Regions from separate parts of the Homo sapiens genome. Here all the other regions are linked to region 2. Evidence: fine-mapped expression QTL. A gene starts in region 2. Each other region holds a variant in brackets. All regions are shown on one strand. Distances are from middle to middle.

Region 1 (6,567 bases), 480 kb before region 2:
CCAGAATCTGTGGGCAATGAATAAGAATTGGACATGTTTCCAGTTCTAAAGTATTGCTTCTTTCTTGTTTTGCAAGAATTCAACAATATCACAGCTGAGTGGGAGTACTGTAAACTGTTATTAAATGGCTTTATTATTCTCTGGTAGGTTAGCTATTTATAATTTAGCCAGTACCTAATGTGGAAAAAGTAGCTTTTACTGTATTGCAATCTCTTCCATGTAAACTGTGTTCTCACATACTCGGAGGCATATTAATTGTGTTTGATTTGCACTTTATATACTTCCACCTTCACTCCACCCCACTTCAGTCATACTAAACTTCTTCACCACATCCTAGACAACTATTATTTTCTCTGAGCCTTAATGCCAGCCTCTCCTTCTTCATCAGGCCCAGTTCTGGTTGCCATCCCAACTCAGGAGTCATCTTCTCTCACTAGCACTCCCAGCTTGCTACATTTACTCTATGAAGACTGTGTCTGTCACCTAGTTTTATGCTTGGTTCTCCACATAGCTCTTCATCACTAGGTTTTGAGCTCCATAAGAGAAAACCTTACTTCTTGTCTTATTCATCTATGTGTTTCCAGAGCTTCGCACCCTGCTTGGCATGTAACAGGGAATCAACAAATTCACAGTACCTTGAATTAATTACTTCCATAAAGAACTTGAGTGGGCTTACAGGGCTAAGGAATATTTATTTCAAAAAGGATAACTAAAAGTAAAAAACTGTATCACTTTCTTAAAAAAAATGTGTATCTGGCACAAAATAGACCTTAATTTAGAACTAAATTTTATTCAGAGCATCCTGGCAACAGAGTGAAAAGGAAAGCACGTCAGTTTTTATGATTCTGCAGGTCAGTTAAAGAAAATACTCAAGTCATCAACAATGTGTTTTTTTCTGTTATCGAATTCTGTGAGAAATAAAGCATGAAGTGACGTCATAGACAATGTTCTTGATTATAGTCTTACAAAAGACACAGAAGAATTCTTCAAATGCACCTTCTAAAAGTCACCCCTCTGTAAAAGCAAAAAGTAAAACAGTGACCCCTAACTGAATAAAGCCACTGCTAAAATACTCACGTCAGGTTGTTTCTGGTGATCTGCTATGAAACAAAGGTAGAGCCTAAGTAACGGTTGTCCATTTCTGTGTAACAAATTACATCACAACTTTGCTGCCTAATATAGCAAACATTTATGATCTCACAGTTTCTAAAGATCTCTTTAGGCTGACTGGTTCTAGTTATGGTCTCTCATGAGGTTGCAGACAAGCTGTTGGCCAGGATTATAGCCTCTGAAGACTTGACCAGGACCAAAGGATCCACTTCCAAGCTTGCTCATATGGCTGTTGAGTGAGAACTTCAGTTTCTTGCCACAGACTTCTCTACAGGGCTGCACAAGAGTTTGCTTTCCCCAGAGAGAATAATTCAAGAGAAATATTGTGAGAGAATGAAAGAGCAACAAAATGGATTCAATCTAATCTCAGAACTGACATACTGTCACTTCCAGCCAATTCTGTTGGTCACACAGACCACCCTAGTGCAATGTGAGAGAGGAATGTAGAGGGCGTGAATACCAAGTGTCAGGGATCATTGAGGGCCATCTTGAAGGCTGCCTACCACAGTAACCTGGAAGCATGCTTGGATCTCACATACTTTAGATGGTCCTTCTAGAATCTCAGATGTGAGCACTTTTAAGTATTGGATGAAGACCATTCAGAGATGACTTCTATGGGTGAAAGTCAATATTTATGTTATTGATCAGTGAGAAATGTATATAATTCCAATCCCAGGAGACAAATGTACCTGGACCAAATGGTATGAAAAGGTGCAGGCCTAGTTTGCATATTTCTTTCCCATCTCTACATTGATAAAGTCAACAGTTTCCTTAAAACCTGAATGTGTTCAAGAATTTAAGAGCTTGAGGCTGCAGATTTCTGTGCATAGACTATGGAAGAGGAAATCTTGGCTTTAAAGCGCCATTATGCTCACATGTGGTCATCAGCATTCTTATCCACAAATCTTGGAAATGCCATTTCAAATGCTATATTTTTAGGAGGGCTGCATCTTAAATGGCCCTCAGGGACAGAGTTGAAACTGAATGAAGGGAATCGTTTTCCAAGGTTAAAGGGGTTTCTTTGGGGAAGTCAAGTGCTATCATTATCCCTATTGTACGGGTAGCTTCAGCAACTTACCCAATAATACAGAGCTAAGCATCAGATACCATATTCAACCAGGAAAAACAGAGTTAACCTCTATAATTTTAGACTATAGAATTGCCCCATTTGTGTCTATATTTCCTAGTCTTTTAAAAGAAATTATTAAAACATTTAAAATAAATGAAATATTTATTAAAGTACAATAACTATTATTAAACAGTTAAATTAAGATATTTAAGCATTAAAAATGTCTAGAGGGTAAAAGAATTGTTAAAATTAACTAAGTCCTTGTAAAGGCAGCTAGTGAATGTTTCGAGCAATTGACCTGTTCCAGCTGGCCTTCCTCACTGGAGAGAACATCTTAAGAGGTGGACGTTCACCCAGATCTCACGTTGAGATCTTGAAATGTGTTGACCTAGTTCTTGGGCCTGAGCCAGAACCTTAGCTGATGTCAGGAGCATGCACAGGAAGGAGGCTCTTTGCTCCAGACTGGGCTACGTGCTGCTGGTCCCATAGTGAACAAGCCCTGGACATGCCAAAACAATGTGGTCAAACAGCCCTGCTCGCCTCTAACTCTTGGCTGATTTGAGACAATAAATGACACAACACCAAAGTTAATTTCTTACATGATAATATTAAGGACAAATAAAACCTGTAGGAACAATTAGTTTTTAAAACTTGGAGAAAGACATTGGCTAAGAATTTAAACAAAAAAGGACATGGGAATACTGCTGTATATAGGCTGGAAAGGCAACAAAGTAGAATTTCTCCAGGAACTGCAGAGCAAGTCTGAGCCAGGGGAGTGTGAGTGCAGTGATGATGGCAGCAAGGGGTACTGCAGGAACAGTGAGGGTAGAGGGGGGATGTTGGAACAGTGGGGGGCATGGCACAATGCCATGTAGCAAAGTGAGAGTGTCTCGAGACCAGTGAAGGTGTTTCCTCCAGAAAAGCCTATAGAAGGGGCAGTGATCATGCAAAGTCATGTTCACATTTCATCTGATGTAGCCACTTATCAAATTACCTTCCAATAGATTCTTTATAGTAAACTTAATTTGAAAGCAATGATTTATTTGAAATCTGCAGCGCTGAGTTGGCACCAGAGGTGGGAGGGTTAAATACATGAATTTGGAAAGTGGTTTAATACCAGATTTTGAAACTGCACATAGAAGCACAAATGTTAAAAACAATCTGTGGAGGTGGTGTGTGATACAGTGAAAGAGCAGAGGTTCTGCAGAATAGAAACGCTGGCTCCCCCATTGACTGTTGAAATGGATTTCGCCAAGTCATTCAACTTGACTGAATTTCAATTCCAAATTCTACAAAATGAAGCTTACCACAAAATTTATTTCATGGGAATATGAAGAAATGCAGATGAGATATTGTTGAAGTCCCTTTGTAATTCTAAATTCTGAATTATTTTAAATTTGGGGGTGGGGAGGGTTACAAATGATTTCCCATCTCAAAAGACTGATTGTTAATTTGTATATTTATTGCCTATCTCCCTGAGTCCTTCCATGTCATATTCACTTGCATATCTCCAGCACCTACAATAGGGCCAGGCTGTCAGGAGGTACTCAGTAAATATTCATTGAATGAATAAACATGAATCTCAATAGAAACATTAATATCAGAATTACATCAAAGACAAGACATTTTGAAAAATAACCCCCCACTGTCATTATTGAGACTGTTTCTCCCCTCAACTTCCCATGTCTAAGAGAAATGAAATGTGTGCTTACACAAATACACTTGCA[A/G]CATTTCCGCTTACATCCCCATTCACCACTTTGTTATGCTCAGTTGAAATAAATCACACAGAACTTCCTCCCTGCATTATTCTTCTGATCTCCAGCAAGCCCTGCCAGGAGTGAGAGAGGCAGCCCAGTGGGTCTCCTCTCACTTAGCCTTGGGCACAGTGAAAAAGAGGATTTGAAGTAGTTGAAAACATTTGTGGAGAAAATGTTTTCAGCCTTATGGTTAATTTAACAGTCTATATCTCCTATATTTCATTATTTTAGCTCCTCATGATAGCTATGAAATAATTTCCTAATTCTTTCCTTAGCCATGGTTGCTGACCAACATAGACATTTTCATGCTGATCAACCTCTCTGATTTATTGCGTTTTGGGAGGGTGATCTCAATTCTATGTAGGGAATAAGAATGTCACCAATCTCTGCAGATCATTGATATTTAGAAATAGTAGAGTTATTAGCTTTAAAGCTCAACTTACCCATGTGTTAATATTAAAATCTGATAAATTAATGAGTTCTACTTGTTGTATTTTTCACACACTTATAGAATTCTTGTCCATCCAGGGGAATTTCTTTCAGTTCTTGCTTCTCTTTAAGATAGCAAAACATCCTTTCTTATGGCTGTATAGTATTCCATGGTGTATATGTGCCACATTTTCTTTATCTAATCTATCGTTGATGGGAAACCATCATTCTCAATAAACTAACACAGGAACGGAAAACCAAACACCGCATGTTCTCACTCATAGGTGGGAGTTGAACAAAGAGAACACATGGATACAGGGAGGGGAACATCACACACCGGGGCCTGTTGAGGGGTTGGAGGCTAGGGGAGGAATAGCATTTGGAGAAATACCTAATGTAGATGATGGGTTGATGGGTGCAGCAAACCACCATGTCACATGTATGCCTATGTAACAAACCTGCACATTCTGCACATATATCCCAGAACTTAAAGTATAATTATAAAAAAAATTTTTTAATTAAAAAAAAAAGGTAGCAAAACATCTGGAAGCAGTACCGGGCTGGTAGGTAAAACGCCAGAGAACAATAATCGGGACAGTGACTGTTTAGTTGCTTTATGTTGGACAAGTGCATTCTCCAGAATTTTTTGTTTTGATTTGGTTTCTGGGATTTTTCTTAAATGGAAAGAGGCATTGATATCTTACTTCGATGATAAGACAGATGAAATATTCTGAGACCCTTTGATTTCTTACAGGTCTTGAGGGACGCATAAGATTTTTGTTTGTTGTAATTATTTGAAGTTCATTACATATTTTGTTTATGTATGACATTTTAATATTTAAGGATGCCTTGAAGGAATTTGGATTCCTTATTGCTCATAAAGCTTGTCGGTGGTCAGCCAGTAGCGCCATTTGCATCTCAATAGTGCAAAGGAGAGAAATGATATTTTGCAGGATCTTGGAGAGTATCCCTGGCAAGGTAGAATCAAACACAGGCAATTGTTGTGCTCATAAAGCCCCACGGCTTCTGTGGATTATGTGTAGGTCACATCTCAACTACAATTAATAGCAACCACCACCACTAAGATTGCTGACTACTCAGATGTTAAGCACAGCCGTATTTCTTTGCAAACAGAGGCTCTCCTTATAGAAGAAAAGAACTACTTATGCTTTCCAGGAAAAGTCCTTTTATTATTAGATTCCTGAGCATTTGGCGTTTTATACTGTTTATAATTCAATGCTCTTAGTAACAACAAAATAGCTGTAACTGATTGGCAAAATATAAAGAAATTCAGAAACATAATTATGTTTTTTACGAGTTAAATAGTTATATGAGATGGAGGACTATGGACAGGAAATATAATTTCTTTTAAAATCCTTTCCCCATGAGGCACACGGTAGGCTTTCTTCACCTAACTATTCTTCTGCCACAGTCCCATCTGGTGCACTGCACCTATGTGACAGAAGAAATAGCTCTCCAGGTCAGTGAGGGGGTAACTCATTTGAATCTTGTTTAGAATGAGGGATTGAGGCGACCTGTGGGTTCTACTTACATAATTTTCAGCATCTGGCTTGGCTAGCAAATCAATGGCCTCAAAACAAAAATAGAAACAAACAAAAGATTCCTGTTCCCTGAGAAAGATAATACCATTGTTCAGGAAATGGTGAGCTTGACAGGTATCTTTTTGTCCTTATTGGTGCCTACCAGACCACACACAGAGAAAACCAAACTCCCTCCATATTAAAGGACAAGGGCAGCAGCAGGCAGCACGCTTCCTCTAACTGGAAAGTGGAGAATGATTTTAAAAACTTGTGTTGACTTGCTTGCTTGCAGCATTTTAATAACATGTAGGTAGGAGGCCACGGGACTTCAGAAAAACAAGTACTGAGCCCCATCAGCAGTGCTTGTTCTTGTAATGTTCCGGGGTAGCATGTGCGGATTTGGAGGAAGACGGTGTCTTTTTCAAAGGAGGCTATTGGAGGAAGTTATAATCACAGTGTAAATAGTGATTCACTGGTACAAAGAATCTGCCTGAGAAAACTGGGTAGAAATTGAACGCTCACTAGCGCCACTAATTTACCCTCCATTAGTGTCCTGAGCTTCAAGTGAAAGCAGGAGGCTCCTCTCAAGGCACAGCTACAGCCCCATCCTTTGGCTCTACCTGGACTTTTAGACACATCTCCTTAATTCTGGAAAAAGACA
Region 2 (6,567 bases):
CAGGTCTCCTGGGAACCCCTTTTAGAGACGGGGCTTCCGAAGCAGGGTCTTGCTGAGGTCTTTGACCTCCTCAGGGCTGTTGACCCGCTCATAGCCCAGGACGGCCATGGGCTGGTAGCAAAACTCCTCCACCTGTTTGATCTGCTGGAAGGTGAGGGCGGTCCGCCAGGCATTGGCGGCCTGCGTGGCATTGCGTGCAGATACCACGAAAGGCTTGGAGGAGGAGCCCGAGCCACTGGTCATGTTCAGGGCAAACTGCTCCATTTCGGGGCTCACCAACAGTCCCACAAAATCGTACACTCTCCGTAGTGTCTTGACGGGGTCTCCCACCAGGTCCTCGTACCGCACCACCAGGTAGTGGCCCTGCAGCCAGTCAGGGGGCTGCAGGGCTGTCTGCAGCGTCTTAGCCATACTATTGCAGATGACCTCCATAGCGCCCAGAGCGTGGTAGTCTGCGGGGCCGCCCACGCCCTCCTTCTTGGCGCCAAGCTTGTGGCCCGCGGCCTCCAAGAAGGGCATGCGGTGAGCTCGCGGGTCTCGGCTGCGCACCACCTGTAGGCTCTCACGGATGAGGCCGTGGCGCGAGCGGATCCGTGAACTCGCCACCGCGCGGGGATCACGCACCAAGTGGATGACCTTGAGGTCCAGGGCCGGGTCTCGCAGCAGTGGCGCCAAGACCGCCACGTCGAAGACGCGCACACCCTTTATGACTAGTGTGCGGTACTTGCGGCACTCCTCCTCGAAACGCGCCAGGCGCTGTGGCGGGCACTTCTTGCACACGCGGTCGTCCACCAACCCCACGACCTCCTTGCGGTAGGCGGGGCAGAGTGGTGACGAGCACACCACCTTGTTGGTGGCTGCGCCGAAGATGCCCAGCGTGGTGAGGTTGCGCCCCCCGCTGCCCGCGGGGCTATACAACTGGAAGACAGAGAGGTCGCAGCGGTAAAGAGCGCTCAGCATGTCCCGCGCTGCCCCCTGCAGGGAAACGGCGTCCCCCGGATACAGTTTTTGCCATACATGCCACACTGGCTCGTAGAGAAAGAACACCTCGGGATTCTGGTTGAATAGCTCGCCGAAGAACGACGAGCCAGAGCGCCACGTGGTGAACACGTACACCAGCTGCCGCTTGTCCCCGACGCCCCCGGTGCCCCGAGTGCCATTGCCTGGAGGGGCCGCAACCCCCGCCATCCCTGCCGCGGCTGCAGGAGCCGCCCCGACGGCGGCAGCGGGAGGGCGGTAAGGAGTGCGGAGGTCCAAACGGGCATGAGCACGGGGCGGCCCGGCCGGAGGCGGCCCTGGGCGCCCCCAGCTGCCTCCGGCTGCCCCCGCTGCGGCACCCAGCGGCCCATCGGGGTTGCACTGCTGCAGCGGCTCCTTGTGCCACTTGTAGTCCAGGAGGTTGAGCATAGTGAGCACCAGCAGCAGTGCATAGCCCGCGCACAACACCAGCGCCTTCCTACGGAACACCTTCATTCCGAGAGGGGACGCGGGCCAGCGGCGTCCTGGGCGCCGGGGCCACTGCGGGAGCAGGGCACGCGGCGCGGCTGCAGGCGCAGCCTGGAGCAGCCGAGGGAGCGCGCCCGGGGGCAGAGCTCGCTGCGGGCTGCGGCTCATCACAGGCACAATCCGGGCCGGCGGCGCGGCGGAGGCAGCCCTGCAGCCCGGGAAGGGGACGCAGCGGGCTGGCTGCTGGCGCCGGGACTCGGGCCGCGACTCCGAGGCGGGCGCGGCGGCTGGTCCCCAGCGCCCAAGGCTGGCTCTCCCATGGCAGCGGCTCCGGGTAGGACCTGCGAGGGGAAGCGGAGTGAGCGGATGCGCCCCAATCTCCCTCCCAGCCTCCTCCTCCTAAGTAACGCCCACCCTCGGTTCTGCCCGGTTCCTCCGCTCACCTGGAGCCGAGGGCGCGCCCGGGAGCGGCCCCGGATCACCGCCCGGCGGACTGTCCGGCTGTCACTCGTTCCTCGATTTCGCTCCCTCTCGCTTCCGCTGGGGGTCCCCGCACCTTCGAGGGGTCTGGGGAGTCGGCCGACTTATCCCTGGGCAGTTTCCGGGCAGCGGGCGCCCTGCGGCTCGGGAAGAAAAACTTTCACGCGGCCCAGAGCCCCGCTCCGCGCTCCGCCGAACCCGGCGCCTCCCGGCTCCAGCGACGTCTCCTCCGCTTTCTCGGGACCGCAGCTTCCTGTCTCGCTCAGGGGAACGAAGCCGGCTGGGGGCGATGGCTGGGGGCGGCTTATATGGGACTCAGCTCCCGGCATAGCGGCGCAGCCCCTCTCGCTTTCGGCCTCCGTGCGGCGAATTTTCCCACCTCTCTGGCAGCGGTGGATGGGGCACAGCGCGACCCCGCAGCGGCGGCGGCGGCTGCTTCCATCACCGGGAGGATGCCCGGGCGGACAGCGCAGGCAACCCCCGCCGCTCCGCAGCCTCCGACTGGACCAAAGGACCCCGAACACACAGCTCTAGGCAAGGAAACCCAGGTGTGCAGCACTGCCCGACCCGACCCAACCCGCCCCCGGTACCAGCGCTTCTGGCCAACGAGGTATTTAAGCAAAGAAAGACCCCGCCGCAGCCGCCGCCGCCGCGCGAAAGCGGCGCCCAGGAGGATGCTGCTACCCGACTCCCCTTACGCCGGGCGCCCGCAACGCGCTCGGACCAGCCTCTGCGCGGCTCCTGCCAGCCGGCGCCCGGTTGGTGCGCGCCGCCGTCTGTCGCCGCGGCTCCTCCCCTCCGCCGCGCAGCCCTCCCCCTTCGCCGGCCCCGCCCCCGCCCCCAACGCCGAGCCGGCTCCCACCGTCGCTGCGCCTCGGGGGCTGGAGACGCGACCCGCTTTACCGCGACGCGCGGGGGCTGCAGTCCACGGGTCCGAAGGCTTAGCTCTGCGCGCAAAGCGCCGGGATGCGAACGCGGGATCTGGAGCTCGTCGGTGCCGAGAGCTGCCAGAGAGTTGGATTCTGCGTGCAGCTGCCGGACTCGGCCCCATGTTTTTGCTCTCAGAAAGAGTTGGTGATGAAGTTTGGGCAGAAATCCCCTGTCGGCCGTCCGCTCCACGCTTCCCTCGGGGCCGACACTGCCAACCTCTCCGGGCACTGAGGACACCTCTGCGCCCTGGAGCGGTGGGAGGACGCGGAGCGCCGTTCTCTGGCTTCCGACACCCTGCCCGCCCTCTCTAGTGGGTCTGTGGCTGCGCCCTCTCGAAGGAAGTAATAAATCTTTCTGACCTTGGGGGTCAGAGGAGACGCTTCAGTTTTCCGGAGGGGTGTGCGGGCGGGACCGTCTTTCCGCTTTACTGGACCTCTGGCCGGGGCTGCTCTTGTTTCATTGTGCCCCACATGCGGAGCCCCGATGCTCTCCGCATTTCCGCTCGCGGTGCTGCGTCCACTGTGATTGACGTCCTCTGGAATTGGGGTGATGGGGGAGGGGAACGCCCCGTTCTAATTTGCAGAAAAATACTTGTCCCGCTTCTTGGTTTTGTAGATGAGATCAAAGAACTTGACCCCAAAGGAAACACCGTTGTTGAAAGAAAATCATTTTTCAGTTGCTTTAGGTTTAAGTACTTTTGTTTAAGGTTATGAGGAAAAGCGTCTCTCTCTCCCCCCAACTCCCTCCCTCCCCAAGAACACTAAGCTGTAGCCTCAACTTCATCTGTAGAATGGGGACAGTTGTAACAGCCTCCGGAGACTGAACGGTGGTTGAGTATCAGAGCGCGCACACGAAAGGTTAGACCTGAGTTCAGGCCTCCAAGTGCCGAAAAGGGAATCTCCGTGGGGCCTGAGGCTCAGCACCCTCGGATAAACAGAGCTCTCGCTGATCCGGAGTTTTGTTGCCTCCTGTCCCAGTAGAGTTTTTAGAAGTTACTGCACAATTATCTTTGTAGCGTTTCGGGCAGACTTTTCAGAGGACCGTTCTAACATTAAAATATTGCTGTTTGCGCCATTATTCTTCCATGAGTCTTACAGAATCCCCTGAGTACAAAGACTTGAAAAGTGACTTAACTCGCTTTCCACGGGTTTTTAACTCTCTTACGGATTTAGTTTCAGGGGAGAAAAATGTTCAAAAAACTTATTTATCCTTGTTTTCCAGAAAAACCCATAATGTCACGAGTACAGTTCAGCTTATTTTTTCTCCTGGGGAGGGGGATTGGGACAAGGACAGCAGAGCTCAAATTTTATATCCAGCTTTCTCAAATAATATGGCATTGCCTCTGGAAGTGGGTCGAGACAGGCAAGAATCCCTGTTAACAGATGAAGGTGGTAGAGTTTAATTGAGCGACTCCCCATCTTTTCCTTTTCTGGAATCCCCAGCCTCCCTTCGCCTACTCTCTCAAATGCCCCTGCCCCTTTTTCACCACCTCTTTTACCACGAAAACTAAAATGACATTGGTGCATGAAAAGACTGATGGGAGAGAGAGGGAATTGGGGAGGAAAGTAAATCTCAATTTTAATATTCAACATGATTCCAAGAAAAATAATTTCTAATATTTTTCATTTAGTTTCTGGCTTTGTGCTTACCCAGAAAAAAACTGAATTGCATTAGTCGATGTAGGGACCCTTTTTAAAAACAATTGTTTGCATAGAAATAATTCCGTTTGCAATTTTGTAACACTTTACTGGTGTTGGCAAAATAGTAAATCCATTTGCCAGGTGCCCCCACAGTGCTCAGCTGGCATAAATTTACGGGTTCTGGCATCTCCACCCTCTCCTTGCTTGCAAATTTTTCCCATTTTGCATGGTGTCATGATTAATTCTGAACTTTGTTATAGCTAATGACATCTGAAAACTTCATAATGCCTTCCTTCCCGCATTTGTTTGGAAATTCCTTTCATTTTAATCTACTTATTTTAGCATAGTAATGACCCAGACATATAATATGTCACATAATAATGTCACTTGCACAAGAGCCAGTCATGCCACAGGGCTAGCCTTAATTTCGGCTCACTGGTTTAGTTTGTCACAATTCCATCTCCCCCAGGATGCTCTTTCAGTCTCTGTCTTCTCTGCTGCCTGTTATGTTCTATTGGAAACTGTCAGGCCTCTGAGCCAAAGCTAAGCCATCATATCCCCTGTGACCTGCATGTACACATCCAGATGGCTGGTCCTTGCCTTAACTGATGACATTCCACTACAAAAGAAGTGAAAATGGCAGGTCCTGCCTTAACTGATGACATTACCTTGTGAAATTCCTTCTCCTGGCTCATCCTGGCTCAAAAAGCTCCCCCACTGAGCACCTTGTGATCCCCCCCTCCACACCTGCCCACCAGAGAACAACCCCCTTTGACTGTAATTTTCCTTTACCTGCCCAAATCCTATAAAACGGCCCCACGCCTATCTCCCTTCACTGACTCTCTTTTCGGACTCAGCCCGCCTGCACCCAGGTGATTAAAAAGCTTTATTGCTCACACAAAGCCTGTTTGGTGGTCTCTTCACACTGATGCGAGTGAAAGAAACTTGCTGTGGCTTTTGCTTAATCCTGGACAAATGTCCAGAGATCTTCAAGGACTTTCTTCCAGAGTCTGAACTGGGGAAAGATGCAAGGCTGGGTTACCTGAACAGTTCCCATTTGGGCCTATCTGTGTGAATCCTAGAAGATTCACCTTTGGAAAATGTTTGCCCCTGGGCACCAAGATAGATTCACTCCCTCATATTTTGAACAAATATGCATTTTCAATAGAACTTGAGATTATAGATTCAGGTTACTCATAATCCTTGATTTAAGATATGCTGCCATTGTTAGTCCAAGTGGCCCTTTTAAATGTCCTATGTTTTAATATAATGAATATGCATGAACCCATTACACAGCCCAAAAACCTCCAAGAGTAACCGCTCTACTTAGTTTAGAAACTGAGATGAAATGATAAAGTTCTAACAGGAAGGAAAAACAACTTGCTTTAACAATCTCAAAAAGATACAAGACTACTTATGGCCGGGCACGGTGGCTCATGCCTGTAATCCCAACACTTTGGGAGGCTGAGGTGGGCATATCACTTGAGCCTAGGAGCTTGAGACCAACCTGGGCAACATGGCAAAACCCCATCTCTACAAAAACTACAAAAAAATTAGCCAAGTGTGGCAGTGCATGCCTGTAGTCCCAGCAACTCGGGAGACTGAGATGGGAGAATTACCTGACCCCAGGAGGTCAAGGCTGCAGTGAGCCATAATGGTGCCACTGCACTCCAACCTGGGCAACAGAGTGAGACCCAGTCTCAAAAAAAAAAAAAAGAAAAAGAGGTTGGGCACGGTGGCTCACACCTGTAATCCCAGCACTTTGGGAGGCCGAGTTGGGCAGATCACCCGAGGTCAGGAGTTTGAGACCAGGCTGAAACCCCGTCTCTGCTAAAAATACAAAAATTAGCCTGGTTTGGTGGTGCGCACCTGTAGTCCCAGCTACTCGGGAGGCTGAGGCAGGAGAATTGCTTGAACCCGGGAGGCAGAGGTTGCAGTGAGCCAAGATCGCGCCACTGCACTCCAGCCTGGGCAACAGAATGAGACTCTGTCTCAAAAAAAAAGAAAAGGAAGGAAAAGAAAGAAAAAGAAGAAAAACAGTACTTACAAATTGAAACAACACTATTACCAG
Region 3 (6,567 bases), 130 kb before region 2:
AATGCACAATAACATTTTGTCTTTTGTTACTGAAAGCCCTTGTGTATTAGTCCATTTCCATGCTGCTGATAAAGACATACCCGAGACTGGCAAGAAAAAAGAGGTTTAATTGGACTTACAGTTCCACATGGCTGGGGATACCTCAGAATCATGGCGGGAGGCACGAGGCACTTCTTACATGGCAGCAGCAAGAGAAAATAAGAAAGAAGCAAAAGCAGAAACCCCTGATAAACCCATCAGATTTCATAAGACTTATTCACTACCACAAGAATAGCATGGGAAAGACCGGTCCCTGTGATTCAATTACCTCCCCCTGAGTCCCTCCAACAACACATGGGAATTCTGGGAGATACAATTCCTGTTAAGATTTGGGTGGGGACAGAGCCAAACCATATTACCTTGCTACAGAAAAGGCTTTGTTTTGTTTTGTTTTTGAGACAGAGTCTCACTCTGTTGCCCAGGCCAGAGTACAGTGGCAAGATCTCGGCTGCCTGCAACCTCCACCTCCCTGCAACCTTCTTCTGCCTCAGCCTCCCAAGTAGCTGGGACTACAGGCATGTACCACCACACCTGGCTAATTTTTGTATTTTTAGTAGAGATGGGGTTTCACCATATTGGCCAGGCGGGTCTTGAACTCCTGACCTTTGGTGATCTGCCCACCTTGGCCTCCCAAAGTGCTGGGATTACAGGCGTGAAGAAAAGGCTTTCCATTTTGAAGATGATTGCCCTGTGCTGGTGAGACAGACCAGGAAAGATGCGTTGGGAACATCCTGACAAAATACTATTAGGGTGGCCAGGAAGGTCTTTGCTGGGCAAATGAAAATGTGTTTCCACACCCTGCTTTAGTCAGAGAGAACCTCAGTGTTCACCAATATTTATTGACTAAATAAAGGTCAAGAGGTATATTTAATAAGTGCCTACAATATGCCAGGCACTGTTCCTGCCCACATAAAGATTACATTCTAGCAGAAGATGACAGACTTTAACAATGATGTAGCTAAGTGATATGGTTTTGCTCTGTGTTCCCACCCAAATTTCATCTCGAATTATAATCCCCATATGTCAAGGGAAGGACCTGGTGGGAGGTGACTGAATCATGGGGGCAGTTTTCCCCATGCTGGTTTCATGACAGTGAGTTCTCAGGAAATCTGATAATTTAAAAGTGTGAAGGGGCAGGGGTCTCATCCCATCCCACCCCACCCGCTGCCATTCCTGCGGCCATGGCAAGACACACTTGCTTTGCCTTCGCCTTCCACCGTGATTGTCAGTTTCCTGCAGCCCCCCAGCCATGCTTCCTGTTAAGCCTGCAGAACCATGAGCTAACTAAACCTCTTTTCTTCATAAATTACCCAGTCTCCAGTAGTTCTTTATAGCAGTGTGAAAACAGACTAATAAAGTAAGTTATATGGTATATTACCAAGTGATAGCACCACAGTGGGGTTGGGGGGATAGAGCAGTGTAAGAAAATATAGGATGGGAAGTAGGATGGATGTTAGTATTTGAAACAAGACAATCAGTTTAGACCTCTATGAGAAGATGGCATTTGAGCAAAGACTTAAAGATGAGAGAATGAACCATGGAGATGTGTCTGGACTTGTCTGGAACATTCAAGGACAGCAAGGAAAGAGCATGGCCAGAGCAGAGCATGCAGTGCGGAGAGCTGTGAAGGATGAGGTCAGAGTGGAAGCCAGTAGGGGGAAGGGGCAGTTCAGGTAGGTTCTGGTAAAGTCCTTGCTTTTATTCATAGTGAAGTGAGAACCAATTTCAGCCAATCACGGGGGGCAATAAGTAAATGAAAAATATGACTAAAAGGCTCATTCCGGCTGCTGCATGAAAACAGACTCCAGAGTTCGTAATAGAAATAAGGTATCTGGGTCAACTACATAACAATTACCAAATCTCAGCAACACGAACAGTAAGAATTTATTTAGCTCATGTGTCTGTGTGTCACTTGGAGTTCTGTGATCTAGGCTGGGTCCCCTGAGGCCATCTCAATGGGGACGAGTGCTCCTCTTCCCTGCTCCATCTCTCAGCCTCCTTGGGACCAGAAGGCTACAACAGAAATTTTCTTTTCATGGGAATCATTGGCTTGTAGATGGCATCTTAAGCCATGATCTTGATTTAACATTAAAGTTGCTTATCACACAAAATCGTGGCCCCTGAGTGTAGAGTTTTTCAGCATGCCATGTGAAGATCTTCTGGGCATTGACTCACCAAAATGATCTAAATGTCAAGGGGAAAGGGGCTCACAGTTTAAGCGGGTGATAAGACATAACTTTATACTTCATGACACTGGATGCCAAGAGGTCATTTTTTTAAAAGCTAATTATTTCGACTGCATTGCTCACGTTACATACAACAGTTTACATTCGGTGTCCTGAACCTATCACTTCAAGAGCTGAGATACCATATTTTTAACGTCGGGGATAAGACATCTGGAGTTTTGAAAAACAAATTTCAGACAACTCCATCCCTGGAAGTGGCTATTCTCTAAAACTATTTTCTTGTCTTCTGAGAGAGAGAAATATATGGTTTATTAATGAGCATATTTCAAAGCCACATCTAAATGTTATGATAGAACTGGAAGAAAAGTTATAAATACAACCAAAGAATAAATGAGGGATCCATTCACCATTACCTTCCTTGTTGAAACATCCAGATTTCTACAGTAGGACAGTCAGGGCTGGTGGGCACCAAGACTATAGAAAGTCCTCTAGAATCTGGAGGTCATGCACTTTTCAGATACTCAGAACAATCTGACAGGGCCATCCTCCATGTCCCTTCATTACCAAAGATATAATTACGACTTAAGATTTTCAAATTTAGGGAAGTATAAACTAGGAATAGCAATGGACCAGATAGAAAAACTCATCTGTGGCTCTC[ACT/T]CTCCACCAAACAGGGCATGGACATATCGGTGAAAGATCATCAACTGTATCATGTTTCTTACTGGCACAACACTATTATGGTTTGCATTTTAAATGCAGTTTCAATTTTACGATGAAGTAGTAGTGAATCCTTTTTTCCTTGATAATAGTGGTCTACAGGCATACCAAATTCCTGGTAGGTAGCTCATATAGCGCTAACATTGAGAAACACATGCCAGGAAGCTACAAGCAAATCCAATTCATTCTCTCACCTACCACAAGTCACGTTATACTAAGTACCTTTAACAGATAGCCTAGGAAGAAGTACAGGCAGCTTTCCACTTGAAGGTAAAAAAAAAATACTCCTAATAATTTTCAGTCCACAACACTCAACTGTGCCAATAAGCCAAGCTAGCTATAAGAAAGATGAAACAAGTACGGCCATAAAAACAGTGACCCTTCTACATTAAAAAGGAAAAAAAAATACAACTCCATTTAGCAGCTCAATTAAGATGACCTCTAGTCATCACACTTGTTACAATGACAGCTCCTCCCTCTAACACTAGCTAGATTTGGCTTTCTCTGGTGGCCTGGAAATGACAGGGGAATTATTAGCTCTTTCTCTCCAGGCGTCAGCATTTCACAAGCACTTACGGTGGCTTTAACCTCAAAAGAGTTCCTGCTCTGCGGGGTAAACTTTCCTCTATGGTATGTAATTAGCCCATTGATGCATCTCCCATGCTGGGCTGATATTCTGGAGGGCAGCATTAGCAGGTCAAGTTCAAGTGCTGAAGGCAGGTAGCATAGCTGCATAAGATTGCAGAGAGCTCTCTGTGGGGAGAGGGGTAGGCCTGAGGGTCTCTGAATAAATATTGATTCCCTGGGAGACAGGACAACAGTTTAAACCATATGGAATGTAACCAAAGTATGCATGCATGCGTGCACGCACGCACACACACACACACACACACACACACACACACAAATAGGTGTGTGCCGGCCTAACTGTTCCTCCTCTGGGACACAGGTGGTTCCTCTTCCACCATTCATAGGAATTCTGAACCAGGTATGGGAAGAGCTGGTCATGGGCAGAAGCAAGAAGGAGCAAAGAGGGAGACCAGAAGCTGTAATACACGGGCAGCCCCTGAGGGACACTTGGCAAAAAGAAAATTATTGCTTCAACATCATTTTCCATTAAACACAATTACAAGAAAGAAGTCACAACCAACTATAGCTGAAATAGCAACTGATTGGAGTAAAGAACATGGGTATGAGGTCAAGCAGAACTCAGTGCAAGCATGGAAGATAGACGCTGGTACTCATTGTCAGTTGAGTTGTACCAGAACGTTCAGATCGTATTTCTCATATAGGTTTGTGAGAAACGTGAGGATTTTGCACTGCCACAGAACAGAGAATCACAACTTGAGTTTCTCAAGTTTTGAAGCTGAGTTTGATTCTGACACTATCTAATTTCAACACTTAGAATCCCTCCTCATTCAGGAATTTGGGGAAAAAGTGAAACATGAAACATGTTTTCTCTGTCCCCCACCCCGCCCCCCCATTCTTGCTAGGCTGATGGGTGGTTTTCCTGTTAGGAGAGTAGGCATCGCCCCCAATGGGGACCATCACCACACATGTGCATAAAACATGGCAATGACTGTGGTACCCAGAAAACACTCAGAAATGAATTTTCCCTCTGAGACACCACCAGCAACACCCATGCATAATGCATGAGTTCAGCCATCGGTGGAAATAAACCAAAAGATTGTAAACGTGTGACTGAAAAGATTGGGAATGTTGAAAACTCCAATCAAGGGGGCCAGGGTGTAATTTCAGAGAAACAAAACTCAAATGTGATTGTAATTTAGCAAAATAAATCTGAATCAATTTCACTGTACCCAGTTTAAGAACAGACTCTGGAACACAAAGGGGAGCGGGTAGCCTGGAACACAAAGAGGGAAGCCCAAAGAGCCCACAGTCAGCAGGGCCTGTCCAGCTCCATAACACCAAGGACGTCTATTCCGCCATGGTGCAGGACTGAACCATCAGGCCACTCAGAGGCCACTGCATGTGAGGAGGAGGAACCCTGTGGCCGTTCTGGAACTCCCACCCCTGCAGCACCCAGAGCAGCTCTCCCTTGATAACTCCCACATACAGGTCTTCACTAAACATTTCATTTTTTAAAAAAGAGTGCCTCCATCTGAAAACAGCTGTCCTGAGTTAAATATCTCTAAGACTGTCTTCTATATTACTACTTCCCTTTGCCCTGACTTCATAGCTACTAAGAAACCTTCCAATAATTCTTCTTCCCCTACTAAAGAGAAGAAGGCTCCCAAACGGCAAGTATTCATGTTAGTCACTTGCATTAAATATGTCCAATTGTAGACATAAAATGCAGCATAATCAGTCTCTTCTGAGTTTAATTGGCTCCAATACCCAAGTCACATTCCAAGTCAAGTCACCCTCCTGTCCGGCTGAGGCAGCCCTCTGATAAATTTGTCCCCCCTTCAAGACACTCAGTGACCCATTGGCTATCCTTCTATGGATATCTTCACATTGCAACATGTAAGTGTGAATTAAATGGTTAACGTTGAATTCATCAACTGATGAGAACCCTTCTGTCACAGTAAAACCCAGTGAACAAGCAAGTGGACAGTTTTTACCTGCACCTGCTGTGGTCGGGGAAGTGGTGACTAGCACAACTCAAGTAGCAAAAGGAGAGTAAAGGCCTTGTAAGTAAAGGGAAGGATTTCTGAGGATGCACGCAAACCAAAAGTTATTATCTCCCTCCTTAGAGCCAGAGAGAAGCATGAGGTCCATCCACCTGAAACAAGGGGAGTTAGCTGTATGTCTTCACAAATGTGTAATTAAAACACTGTGCGGCAGGTGGTTGCAGAAGGCATTTGCTGGAGGAAAAAAATTCCTCCAGCACCTAAGCTTTGGTCTGAAACATTGTTTCAGTTTCCTATGGCTACTGTAACAAATTACTACAAGGTAATAAACTTGTGTTGTGTACTTAAACAACACAAGTTTATTACCTTGTGTGCTGTGTACTTAAACAACACAAGTTTATTACCTTACAGTGCTAGGAGTCAGAAGTCCAAAATCAGTCTCACTGACCTAAAGCCCAGGTGTAGGCAAGCTGGTTCCTTCCCGAGGATCTGAGGGAAGAGTCTGTTTCCTTGCCTTTATCTGCTTCTGGAGGCTAGCTGCATTCCTTGGCGCAGAATCTTTTCCTCGCATCATTCCAACCTCTTGCGTCCGTCATCACGTTTCCTGCTACTAACTGGGATCACCTGATCCCTGCTCTATACGGACTCCGTGGTTACATTGGACCCACCTGGATGCTCAGCCTAATAGTCCCATCTCAATAGCCTTAATCACACTCGCAAAGTGCCTTTCAGTGTGTAAGGTAACATATTCACAGGCTCCAGGGATTTAGATGTGGCTATCTTTGGGAGCCATTATTCAGCCCACCACAAGTGTCACAGCCATGGGTGGGAACAGGAGTAAATCACACAACTGAAATACAGTTGCTAATCCTTAAAGGCTGAGCTCTGAGTGGCTGCATTCTCAAAGACAAGAGAAGTCTTTGTAATTTAGATACCAACTCTGCCTCAGGAAGAAGATACACATGTGAAGTGGGCTGGCCTGGGTTAGTGTGGCACTCAGGTCACCACAGGACATTCACATGGACCAACAC
Region 4 (6,567 bases), 280 kb before region 2:
AAATGGGAGGCTGAGGCAGGCAGATCACCTGAGGTCAGGAGTTTGAGACCAGCCTAGCCAACATGGTGAGAACCTGTCTCTACTAAAAATACAAAAAAATTAGGTGTGGTGGCAGGCACCTGTAATCCCAGCTACTCGGGAGGCTGAGGCAGGAGAATCACTCAAACCCAGGAGGCAGAAGTTGCAGTGAGCTCAGATCACGCCACTGCGCTCTAGCCTGGGTGACAGAGTGAGACTCTGTCTCCAAAAAAAAAAAAGAAAAAAGAAAAATTATACAAAAAATTAAAAATTCTTGAGGTGAAAGTATAATAACAAATGAAAAATTTCCTAAAAGGGCCCAACTATATATTTGAGCTAGAAAAAGAAATAGTCAGTGAACTTGATGATACATCATTAGAAAGTATATAATCAGAAGAACAAAATAAGAAGAAAAAATGAGCGGATAATTAGAGACCTCTGAGATACCATTTGGAACACCAACATGTGTGTAATGGAAGTTTTGGAAGGAGAAGAGAAAGGGCAGAAAAAAATAATCCAAGGAATAATGGCTGAAAACCTCCCAAATATGATTTTTAAAAATCAATCCACACCTTCAAGAAGTTCAGTGAATTACAAGTAGGGAAAACGAAAGCCATATCAAGACACATTATACTCAAAGTGTTGAAAGACAAAGTGAAAATCTTGGGTGCAATAAGAGAAGTTATTCATCACACACAAGAGAACTCCAATAATAGGAATATCTGACTTCTTATCAGAATTAATGAAGTCCACAAAGCAGTGAGATAACATAAAATGCTTAAAAAACTATCAGCAAGAAGCCAATACCCAGCAAAACTATCTTTCAGAAAGGAAAACAAAGTCACATTTCCAAATAAAGACTGAATTTGTTGTTAGCATACCTGCCTGACAATAATTACTAAGGAAGTTTTTTTTAATGAAAGGAAATGACACAAGACTGCAATTCAAATCCACGTGGAAAAAAAAAAGTGCCGGCAAAGGTAACTACGTATTAACTATAAAAAACAGCATAATTACATATTGTATCTCCTTTCTTTTTAAAACTAAAAACAATATAAAATTCAATTGTGTCTATAGGATATAAAGATATGTATTTGACAATAATAGCACAAATGAGGAGTGAGGAAAGGAAGCTATAGTGGAATAAGGAAGTGGCATGAGACAGTAACTCAAATCCACAGGAAGAAATAAAGAGTAACAGAAGTTGTAAATAAGATTAATAGAAAAACTTTGTAAATATACTTTTTTCACTCTTAATTTTTTAAAAAGATGCAAGATTGATATAAAGTAGCAACACCGAATTGTGTTTATAACATATATAGATGTAATATATATGACAGCACAAAGGATGTTGTTAAATCTTATTTCTGGTTCAGTAAGTAAGAGTGGAGCAAATGTTCTACATCTTACTGGAATTGAGTTATTATAAATCCAAAGCAGAGTCTAAGAAGTTGAGATGTATATTGTAACACCTAGAGCAACCACTAAGAAAATAACAAAAAATATGATTTTTTAAAATCAACAAATAAACATAGGATACAAATAGCAAAATGGAAGAAGTAAATCCAACTATATCAATAACATTAAATGTGAATGAACTAAACAATGTAATCAAAAGGCAGACACTGTCAGACTGAATTTGAAAAAAAAAAAAACTAATTTCACCTAGATTCAAAGATACAAATATCCTGAAGGGAAAGGGGATGGGAAAAGATACACCATGCAAACAATAACCACAAGAGATCTGGAGTAGTATACTAATATCAGACAAATAGACTTATGACATATGGAGAGATGAAAAGGAACACTTTATAATAATGAAAGGGTTAATTCATTTGGAATATATAACCATTATAAACATAGATGCACTCAACAACAAGGTCCCAGGATACATGAAGCAAAAACTGACAGAAAAGTTAAAAACATTAAAGAAAGTATCTTTCAGTTCTACAAAAAAAAAAAAAAAAAAACACAAAGGTGCTAAGTAAATTGCTAGAGTTTGAGAAATGCCACATTCTACCACACTGCAATAATATTTGCAGATTTCAAGTTCACTTTACATTGTTATATATGGACATCTCGAGCAATAAGTATATTCCAATAATTTCTACACTTAAATCTTCTCATAAAAGTCTATTCATGCCAAAGGATTTTTAAATTTTTATAATTTCTTCCTTTTTATTCGTTGAGGTAGGCAGCATGCCAAATTAAATTTTTTTAAAAAAACTGTTTAATTCTTCTGTTTCTTATTACCAGTGTAACTTCTCTCAAATTAGCTAATCTTTGTGGGTCTCAGTGTTCTTATCTTTAAAATGACATGGTAGGGTGCGATCATCTGAGCTTCCTTCCACTTACAGTTCTGAGACTGGTGTTTTCACCATGAAAATGAACTGTTTCACCAAGGTAATCATCAGGAAGGCCAGTAGAATCTAGATTTCTCCATCTGAGATGGTGAGATGTACCTCACTAGGGTAGAATTTCAGCTTCTAGAAAGACTTCTGAGAACTCTTAACATCTGTATGGAATTCATAGGTTTAAGTTGGAGCATTTAATAAAGCATATTTTGATTTAAGGCATCATAAGTGGATTCTGTTCAGGAGCACTTTCATTCCTCCTGTGTAGGTCCTACTATATCTTATGATATGATCTGCACTCCTGACATCTGCCATTGTCAGATGCCACAACCTGTATGTGAATTTCTTGTGAAAACCTGATCCAGCCTAGGAATAGGAACAGTCTATGTCGAGTTGTACATGAATATTCAGGTACCTTAGAGAAACATTTAAAGACACAATTCTAACATTAAGGCTGGAAACAAAGCTATGTTTAAGATTTATTATATTTATGGATTTCTTAAGAAATTTCAAGTCCCTGAAAACTTAGTTTCCAGTTTAAGTGAAACCTTTTTACTGCTGCATGCTTACTAATGTGAATAGCTTTCTACACTAGTCTGATGCCAGGTAGGAAAAACAATGGCACATTCAAGCTGAGTAAATTAAAGGAACTTAGCAAGGAACTATTA[T/C]AAGAGCTGGTTTTAGAAAACAAGGAATAGTGCAGTACCCCAGGACTGGAATCAATGGAGAGCAGTTACCACCCTATACCCAAATGGGAATATTAACCAGAACCCAGAGAGGGTAGCTGGGTGGGGTAGATAGAGAGGGATTAAGGAGCTGAGGCTTTGATAGAAGAACACAGACAAGCCTGGTGACCTGGCAGGAAGGAAGAAATAGATACCCTGTCTCACTCTCCTCTCTCCTTCCAGTATCCTGCCAGTACTTCCTATTGGCTAAACCTATTCAAGACCAAAGAGCACGATAACCCAATTGATGCCATCTGCATTGGTCTGCATTCCAGAGCCCAGGATAATGTAGAGAAAAGGGGGTAGAGTAGATGTAGAGGGAAAAATGAAAAAGTCAGCAGTCCAGAAGATCCAAGGGTAAAATATTAAAAACAATTGCAAAGTTGTTACTTCACCCACGATCAGGACTGGGGGAGGCAAACAAGGTACCTAGGATGCAAAATCTAAGGAAGCACTCACTCTCGGGCTCATACAAATGCTCAGCACTTGCACGATCCTGAGAGACAGGATGTCTCCCTTGCCTAACTCTAGTCTTGGCTCTGATTCCACCCAGTGACTAAAAGTTGCTTGACACAGAATTTTAAAAGGGAATGAATTACCTTTTTTTTTTTTTTTTTTGCATAAATTCAGTCAAAAGTTTTTTTAATTGTTTATTTCCATAGGTTTTTGGGAAACAGGTGGTATTTGCTTACATGAGTAAGTTCTTTTGTGGTGATTTGTGAGATTTTGGTGCACCTATCACCCGAGTAGTATACACTGGACCCAATTTGGAGTCTTTATCCCTCACCCACCTGCCAGCCTTTGCCCTGACTCCCCAATGTTCAATGTATCATTCATATGCTTTTTTGTCCTCATAGCTTAGTTCCCACTTATGAGTGAGAACATACGACGTTTGGTTTTCCATTCCTGAGTTACTTCTCTTAAAATAATAGTTTCCAGTTCCATCCAGGTTCCTGCGGATGCCATTAATTCCTTTCTTTTTTACGGCTGAGTAGTAGAGCATGAATTATCTTTTAATTTGTAAGCATAAAAAGAATATTTTGTTTGAAAGATTTCAAAATACTCTTTTGAATTTTTCCCCAATGACAGCAAATAACATACTAGCCATACATGAAATATCCAGAGGCCAGTATGTATAATGGCTTGACATTATTATTGAACCCTGGATTTTTATTATTTTGTGTGGGTATCCATTTATTCCAGCTGCACGTTTTTTCACACTTTAGCATTTTTGAAGTCAAGATGTGTCTCATAATCAGTGGTGTCACAAATATAATTAACAGCGTTTTTCTTCTTAGATGTACATAAAGTAATAGTATGCCTTATCATGAACTACATCTAGGTTTGATGAAACTCACCGTATGTACTTTAAAGATATATATGAGTGTAACAAATTTTTCATGTCTACCACAATATCTAGCATATACTAATGGTCTTGATATATTCTCAACTGGTATTTCATGAATGAATGAGTGGGTGAGTTAGTGAGTGAAGGAGAGAATGAATGAAATAGTCTACCTGCCCTGCTTTTAGGATGTCGATAGTGTGGTGTCAGGAAAAATATCAGTTCATATACAACAGTTGTTTAAGCTGTCATCATGATCTCCTAGAATGATAGGCCAAAACAGCCTGAGTGTTACATTAGCCACAAGCATCCAATTAACTTTCATTATGTTATTTTCCGCCAAATTGATGCTAATTCTGTTTCCATGCTGTGCACTTTCCGTAGTCTTCATGATAATTTCAGAACCTGTTTTACAACATATTCTTGCTACTCTTTTCCTCTTTGCCTTTCTCTTCTGCTCTAAGACAACTTCTTCCCAATAGTATTGTTGCCAATTTTCTTTCACTTTCCTGATTTTAAACCACTGATTCCAAAATCAAGGTGCAGTTTTCAATATAATTCTAGTGTTAACCATGAATTCTTCCCCTTTTAAAATTTTAAATATTTAATTTCTTTTTAACATAGTCATGCACGCAAGCATGCACTTCAGCCCAATGGTGAATAACAGATTTGACCAGAGAAAAACATTATTTTTCTAGTGATTTACTTTAATCCGTCTCAGCAAGAAACTAAAATTATTTTCTTCTCTTTTTATGTGTCATGCAGTAGCAGCTTCCTAGCTTACCCATTGTCTTTCTGTCAACTTTCCTTTTAAAATTAAGATATTTACTCATTTTTAGCAAAAAACAAGATAATGCATTATTAAGACGTATTTTTGACTTGATTCTCTTCTGAGACTAGGGAAGAAGTTTTTTCACTTAAAAAGTAAAAATAGAAGTGAAATATAGATATATATGTGCATGTACATATATATGTATGTGTGTGTATGTGTGTGTGTGTATACAACAAATCTGTGAATTTATTATTAATAGCATCTGGTCTTAATATGGTCTATAATATAATATGGTCTTACAGAGTGTTAACTGCTCCAAATGAAAATAAGGTTTCAGTTATTTGTAGAGATTGTAGATCAAATCTGCTTCCAATTGTGGGCTTAAACAATAGTTTTGGCAACTGTTATATATCCCAAAGCTGTTTTAATTTTAATTTTAGTGATATATTAGTGTTGGTGAAACAATCTTCTTTGGCTATTTTTCCATGTTTTCAGTGCACATGGTTAATAATTCTGTACTGTCTGCTGGATGTTGGTGATAGATAGCCTGAAGCAACAGATTTACTGGTGCAAAATTATTAAAGTAACCAATTGCAAGTGCTTTTTAATGGTTAATATAAAGAAAAGGGTTATAAATCTCTTTTTGCTTTTAATTACTAAAATACATGGTGTTACAATAACTTCAGATCCTCTTCCCAAACTCCATATGTTTTATATAATACATGAATATTACCTAGTGTAGATTCTACATATTGGCTGTTACTATGATAATTTTGTGTCTCCAACTCCCTTTTCACCCGCTGCCTGCCTTCCACGCTTCATGGTGGAGATACCTTTGTTGGCCTTAGGCTTTTGTTCCCATCTCTTTCTGCTCTCAGGAATAAGTCTGATTCACTTGTATCTTGTGTGAATACAAGCTCAAATATTACCTCTCCCAAGTCCTTGCCTTGTAAGGCCTAATCCTCAACAAGGAATGAAGAGCTTTATCCTGTGCTAAGGAAGTCTAGGCATTGGCAGTTAGGGAAATTCATGTCTTGGGAGGAAGCCTTCTCAAAACATCTTAGAAACCATCTTTCCCTATGAATAGTCAAAGCCAATGTGGTGGTAAGGTGGTGGCGGGGGGGAAGTTCAGAATCAACCATTAGAATTTCATGTTTTGAATGAATTGTGTTGTAGGTACCTATCCATCAATTTTGCAAAACTTTGTTGTTGCCTTCTAAGGATTCTTTCCAAGATATCACTCCACAAAAATATTTGCTTTGGCTGGGTTAAATGTTCTTCTGGATTATTGCATAGAGGAGTTTTACAGTTCTTTAAATATATTAAATATATGTTCTATGCATTCCCCCCTTA
Region 5 (6,567 bases), 180 kb before region 2:
ACAGTACAGGCATCTGCCCTGGCTTTCAGTGCTTTCTATGAGGCGAGCCTGTGGTGGCAGGAAGGTGTGTGGATTTGAGAATAAGGGCAGAAAGGGCCAGGTCCTCTGGGGAGGCCTCAACCTTCTGCCAACAAACCTCTGCTTTCCTGTCCAGTGCCCCCATTATGTTCCCCACTGCCTCCCTGATGGTGCATTAGCATTGTACCAGTCCAGGAAGAAAGGTTAGATTAGAACGATAAGGAGAATAATGTTCATATTTGTCAGTCTCACATTTTAGAGGGTTTTTTTTTTAAAGAAATTCCATTTTTATGATTTTTCAGGTCATACAAGGGGGAAAAAATCAAATGTTCATAATCTGCTTAAACTGTCAATTAGAATATCCCGCAAGGAAATTGTTAGACCGTTTTGTCCATTGGCAAATAAATACAAATTTGATGAATAGCAAGCATTCTTTTCCATCACTTGACAGCTGAGAAATTGAGACAAGCCAGGAAAGAAGCTGAGGAGACAGTTCTGTAACTCAAGCCGTGTTTCCAGCCAGCCCACTTCTGGCCAAAGACACACCCCTTGTTATCTTCAGTCATTTCTTTTTTAATGAGGTGATGGGCAGTTAGTTTTGGTGAGGGGCTTTAAATAGAATTGATCTTCATTAAACAGATCTGTCAAATCTGCCAAAAGACTTCCTTGAGACCATTCCACATGATAGTATTTGTGTTTTCATAGGCAGCCTCTTCTGTAGACTCTCTCTTCCTGTCAACTCACTTCCAGCACAGCATCCCTGTATAAAGACGTTGAAACCCCAGTGGTTGTGAATTTTTAACAAAGCAACAATATTGCCTTTGGGACTTTAAGGTCAGAGAGACCTAGTTCAAATCCTCAAGTCCTAGTTGCCACCACTTATGAACTGTGTGACTCTGGGACATTTCCTTCTCTGTGCCTGTTCCTCAGCTATGAAACGGTATCATCTACCTTCTATCACTGTCAAGGAGAATGAATGTGGTAGCGAACATCAAGGGCTTAGCACTCAGCATGTCCATTCCCATCAGCAGCAGCTGATCTAACCAAGTGACTGCGATTCAGTGAGGGGGTTAAGAGGAGGGAACACGAGTCACCTGCTAGAACATAACGAAGAAATGCTTAATACAGCTTCTCGAAAAGTTGCCCTCAACCCTCCCTTTCTCAGCCTACCCAGATGCCCCATATCAGTTGGCATTTAAGATTCTTGAGCAAACAGATATTGATATAGAAGTTGTGATTTTGCCTTATCACTCCCTTAGTAGATGGAAGGGAATCATTTTCTCAATCCCAGAAATTAATAATAATGTTGATATCTGGTTCACGTTCAGATATCAGAATATAAAAGTACTCTCCAGAGTTATTATTCATAGACCCAAATTAATTGTTGACCCTGAGTTATAAACACCAGCAGGAGGAGCTAGGCTGCAGAAAAGTGTATAGGGGTGCTGAGCCCTAAGGGTGGTGGTGCTCATCACCTGGGCTTGCAGGTAAACAGAGCCATGTGTCAAGACTGAAGCATTTAATACCACTGGACTTAAGTCGTAATAGGAAATGGGAGGGTGTTAAACCAGCCTTTAGGAAAACTAATACAAGATGGATTTTGAATGTCTGAGGGAACATTTTTGGAAGAGTCATTATTAAACTTCAAAGAGAATCAGCCTTATCAGCAGTGATAATAGAAATATATTGGCTTTTCTGAAGATAGATCTTGGGTGTCTCGTTTATGAGCCAGCCATGGCTGGACTTTTATCAAGTCTGTCAACTCGAAACCAAGTTCTTAACCCAAGGCCTGAATGCTGCCAAGATGAAGCCATGTCTGAACAAGGCAATAACATCCCCTCTTATTCCAAAGTGCCTCTCTTGTAAAACTCAAACTTATCAAGAGGCTTTGGATTCCTCTCTCAGTTCCTTGTCTTAACAGGGGAATACATCCCATGTCTAACCAGAATGTTTGTTGCTTCTGGAGTCAAACATATGCGCCTCCTAGGCACAGCCATTAACGTGGGTGTTTCTTGGATGGCTCAGACAACCAGAGTTTGGATTTTAATGGCTCTTTTCACCTCTCTTCTCCCTGAGGCCATCTATCTAGGAGAAATCTCACCTATGTATGAGAGGCAGAAAAAGGAGAAATACTGAAATAATTGCATTTTTATCATAAGCAGACCTATTATGAAGTTATGTGGCAGGAAGAGACCCAAAACAATGGATACAATTTGACTTATCCACCATTCCAGTGGGTGACTAAGAAGTGACTCTAGTTGCCATCTTCCCACAAAGGTCTAAGAGACCTCTTCATCCTCTTTCCCCCATTCAGTATATATATGTTTTCTGGAAATCTGTGCCAGTAAATGTCCAGTGGAGTATTTTGGTTTTGCTTTCTAAAGACTAACCTGGAATGAATAAAGTTCCTCTGTTAAGAAATGGAGAAAACAGATGTTTTAAGTCATCTTTTTAGGGGACCAAGGGCAGTGCCTCTGCCGGCCTGAATCTAAGTCTTTTTTGGCTTTTGGGAGGAGTCAAATGGGCCTGGCAAGTTTTGCAAGGGAAATCTCAGAGGTCATCCAGACCTGAAGTGTAGGTAAGGAGACCCTGGTTTAGCACAAGGTGGAGTCAAGTTCTAGTTCCGCTATTAAGTGTGTCACATGAAGCAGGTCACTTATAAATACCTCTCTGAGGTTTAGTATGCTCATATGTAAAAAGCAAATAATATCTTTCCAAAGTAATCATCCTCAAATGCAAGTCTCACTGTGTCTTTCCCTTGCTTAAAACCAGACACCTGGCCCTTCCTACCTAGTCTAACCTCATTCTCATCACTTAGTCCTCCTCTTGCTGCCTCTCATGCAAGAACACACCAGCAATATTGGATAGCATGCTGTTTCACACCTCTGCTCCTTTGCACATGCTGTTCCAGCCCCCAAGAGGCCTTGCCTCCTTCCCTCCTTCCCTCAAAAAAAAAAAAAGAAAAGAAAAAGAAAAAAACCCACCTGGAACAGGAAAAACATTTGTTCCCCTTTGGAAACTCAGTTCAGATATCACTTTCTATTTGAAACTTTCCCTGAACACTCCTCTACACACCCCTCCCCAGCCCCAACACAAACACACAGCTACTTCTTTGAGTCTCAGACTGTGCCTTGTTCTCATCTGCCCATGATCCAGGTGGGCCTCTCTAATTTGTACAAAGGCTGTGACTAGGCTGGCAGTGGCCCTGGAGGAGTAAGAGTCTTTGGGGACAGGAAAGCAGCCAGAGCGTGTGTGTCACACTGGAAGTCCGGAAGGGAAATGCCTGGAGAGCCAGTTGTCCCTCTGCAGGGGAAGGGCA[C/G]GATGTGGAGAGGGCGGGCAGGGAAGGCTGCCAAGAAGCCCTCCGTGGTGTTAGAAGTGCATGTCTGGGGCTTAACTGAGATGGACTTGTAACGTGGGAGGGACTCCACACTCTTGTGGAGGATAATTGAGAACAAGGAGGATTATGCAATTTGAAAACATCGAATTCCAGAAAACGTGATGATTCTTGACAGTGACCCACTTCACTTGTACCCATCTGGCTTTATCCTCCAGTTCTGCCTGTCTTGAGCCTGAGTCACTCCTCGTCAAACGCAGTCATTCTGTCTGTTCCCAGTAAGGAATAAGACCAAACCTGCTGGCTGGTTGGAGGATCTGTCCTTTCTGCCAGCTCTCCCTCTCGCCATCTTCCTGGCTCTTTACTGCTTTCCTCTGTCCCTCCATCACTGCTCTTATTTCCTTCCCTCCTGCTATTTTTCCTTCTTATCTGGCTGTTTCAGGGGCTCTCTCCTCCTCCCCGCCACTCCACACAAACCTCATTCAGGACTCCCAGCCTTTCCTGCATCTCCTTTCTTGGGCTTTTTCAGCCCTTTAATTCATTCCTCTTAATATTTATTAATACAAACACCTCATTTTCACCTTCAATGTTTTTTTCTTTCTATTTTCTGGCATCTTTTGGTTCTTCTCTGCTACCCGATTTTCCATCTTTTTAGACAAGCATTCATTAAGCACCTACTGTATTCTGGGCAGTATGCTGAGTGCTAGTGAAGAAAAGATGTATAAGCCTATTGCCTGTATATACTAGGGCAATCATCCAGAGGAAATGGGGGCTGATGCCTCCAGCATCCCCCACCCACCATAGCTTTAATGCTCAAGGCAACGTGCTCCTCATCCTCTGCATCACAATCCAGAGTTGCAAAAGATTCCTGGCCCGCTGTGACAAAGGTGGGACAACACTGTCTTAAAGCCCCTAGCAGAGGTGCCAGGTAAGATATACCAGGCCAGCAGCTAGCAACACCTCTCTCCCCAACCCTCTCACTCTTCCTAGGGTGAAGGAGGACAAGTTGAGATAATGAGGATTCTGAACCTCTTTTATTTCCACTCTGCAGTTCTGCAAGGGTTGGCCCCTCCTGGTTTCATAAAAAACACCTCCACTGACATTAAGAGTGGCTTGAAAATTAACATATACAACTAGTATTTTGCACACCAGAAAAAGAAAGCTTTTCAGCTTTGGGTGGGCTTAGAAATGTGGTTGGGAAGACACTAACTGAAAAACACCAAGGGAAAGCGGAACACTCTAGGACAGTGGTTCTCACACTTTGGTCAGTGTCAGAATCACTAGGGGAAGCTGCAAAAACACAGGGACTGTGCCCTATACTACTTCAAAGGCCTGAGTCACTGTGGGCTCCACTAGATCCCCAGGTGATTCTGATACACACCAACATTTAAGGACTGCTGCTGGAGAATGCGTCTGTCTCATCTTCTGCAGAGGATGGCCCTAACACCCAGCTATTCCATTCTACTCTTGCCTACTGAAGGCTTTTTGTCTGCATGACCTCCACCCTCAAGTATAGGTGGACTTTTCCACTAGAGGGCCAAGAAAAAGGCTAATCCTGCAAGGCCAATCTTCATGCCACAGCTTTTAAAAAATCATTTCCGCCCTCTTGCTGATTTCTCTGCAGCTCTGGGGTGCATTAAACTTAAACTATGTGTGAATAGAAGAGGAAGCAGTTGGTACTATTAAAAGAGGGAGAGAGATAGAAGACTATAGTTTGAATATTACCAACTTCCAAGACTTACAAAGTATGCATTTTGCGCAAATGTCAAAATTTAGTAAGCAAATCAGAACAATTTGGGAGATGGGCAGCAGGAGTGATTTTAAAGCTGCATCTGACCATACACACATCCTGTGGCCGTTCTGCAGGATTAGCCAAGTTTTGCAAATGAGAAAATATGGAAACATACACATGAAAAGATTTCCCAAGGTCATGGTGAAGGTGGTAGTGGTGAGGATTAGGGGCTGAATGCTGTTTCTCCTGGGCCTATTTCTGAGCTACTGGACCACAAAGCTTCCTGAATGCAGATGTTAAACAGGTTTTTGCCTTTAAAATAAAGGTTTAAAAGGTTCTTATTTTGGCCATAGTTCAGTGCAAATCTGCAAATCTCCTAGGGAAAAGGGGACCTATTTGAAGGGAAATTAATTACTTCCAGCTTCTGGAACACAAATCAATTCAACTTTTCCCTGTGTTTTACTAAAGAGTGCTTTAAAGAGTGGTACTCCAACTTGGCTGCTGAGAAACTTTTAAAAAACCTGATGCTCAGGCCTCACCCTGTACCAAATCAGACTCCGGGCTTTTAAAAGTTCCCTCCAAAGATTCTGATGTACAATAGAGTTTAAGAGCCATTGCTCAAAGCATAGCCTTACTCATAGCATAGCTCTGTGGATCAGGAGCATAGGCATCACCTGAGAGCTGCTTAGAAATGCAGAATCTCAGGCCCCACCCCAGGCCTACTGAATCAGAATCTGCATTTTATTATAACAACATCCCCAGGCATCTGAATGCATTTTAAACATTGAGAAGCACTCCTTTAAAGCACTCCTCACTCCCCCTAAAAAAGTTTATACATTTCCAAACACTGAAGAGGTTTATCTGCTTCTTCCAATGAGGTGCAGAATGGGCAGGAGGGCAAATCACAGAATTTTAGAAGTAGAAATAAAAACAGCTAATAAGAATTAATATGCATGTCAAGTGCTCTACATGCATTCTCTCTTGATATTCACCACAACCCTATGATAGAGGTGCAAATACTCTGTCCCTTTTCACAGATGACCAAACTGAGGCTCAGACCTAGGTGAAACAGCTAAAATACCACCTGGAGAGGCAAAGTGAGGACTTACACTAATGCTTCCAGGACTTAAAAGCACACGCTTTTAACCACTCAGTCAGACTTTCTCAACCTGTGTGCCAAACATTCCAAATGGGCTACAAGTGCCAAGACATTTGTTCCCCTCAGCCCTCACATAGAGTCTGGGATGGCCACCCACTATAGAGAAAAGATTAGCGATCTCTGCTCTAAATTATGCTTTTTCCAAATCATACATTTTGCCAATTGTTGGACAAAAGAGAAACTGTGTCTTCTAAAGTTTAAGTGACCTACCTGAGGTCATCTAGCTCTTTAAAGCCAGGATAAGGCTCAGAACCCAGGGGTCCCAACTGCCTGCATGCCTCCTCCCACTAAGCAGTGGTTCCAAAGTATGGGCCCATAACCAGG

The links.
Region 1: its variant is fine-mapped to the expression of CHST2 in whole blood (TOPMed, PIP above 0.99).
Region 3: its variant is fine-mapped to the expression of CHST2 in whole blood (TOPMed, PIP 0.97).
Region 4: its variant is fine-mapped to the expression of CHST2 in whole blood (INTERVAL, PIP 0.93).
Region 5: its variant is fine-mapped to the expression of CHST2 in fibroblasts (GTEx, PIP 0.96).

The regions. Positions count from the first base shown.
Region 1 is chr3:143,598,340-143,604,906 of GRCh38, reverse strand. All of the region lies in intron 6 of SLC9A9 (solute carrier family 9 member A9), which reads left to right. Among named protein-coding and RNA genes, the nearest start is that of SLC9A9, 250 kb to the left of the region's middle. The variant A/G (reference allele first, on the strand shown) is at 3,907.
Region 2 is chr3:143,115,864-143,122,430 of GRCh38, reverse strand. CHST2 (carbohydrate sulfotransferase 2) reads right to left here and starts at 2,660. Exons shown (of 2, transcript NM_004267.5): 1 at 1,890-2,660; 2 at 1-1,787. The coding sequence starts at 1,614. The coding sequence ends at 22. RefSeq lists enhancers at 19-660, 1,303-1,944, 2,268-2,317, 2,603-3,102, 3,298-3,427 and 1 more and silencers at 1,118-1,477, 1,538-1,737, 1,798-1,877, 1,928-1,977, 2,008-2,057 and 1 more.
Region 3 is chr3:143,244,252-143,250,818 of GRCh38, reverse strand. No RefSeq gene overlaps it. Among named protein-coding and RNA genes, the nearest start is that of SLC9A9-AS1, 95 kb to the left of the region's middle. The variant ACT/T (reference allele first, on the strand shown) is at 2,884.
Region 4 is chr3:143,397,869-143,404,435 of GRCh38, reverse strand. The region is part of intron 12 of SLC9A9 (solute carrier family 9 member A9); the gene reads left to right. Among named protein-coding and RNA genes, the nearest start is that of SLC9A9-AS1, 59 kb to the right of the region's middle. The variant T/C (reference allele first, on the strand shown) is at 3,041.
Region 5 is chr3:143,299,785-143,306,351 of GRCh38, reverse strand. The region is part of intron 14 of SLC9A9 (solute carrier family 9 member A9); the gene reads left to right. Among named protein-coding and RNA genes, the nearest start is that of SLC9A9-AS1, 39 kb to the left of the region's middle. The variant C/G (reference allele first, on the strand shown) is at 3,338.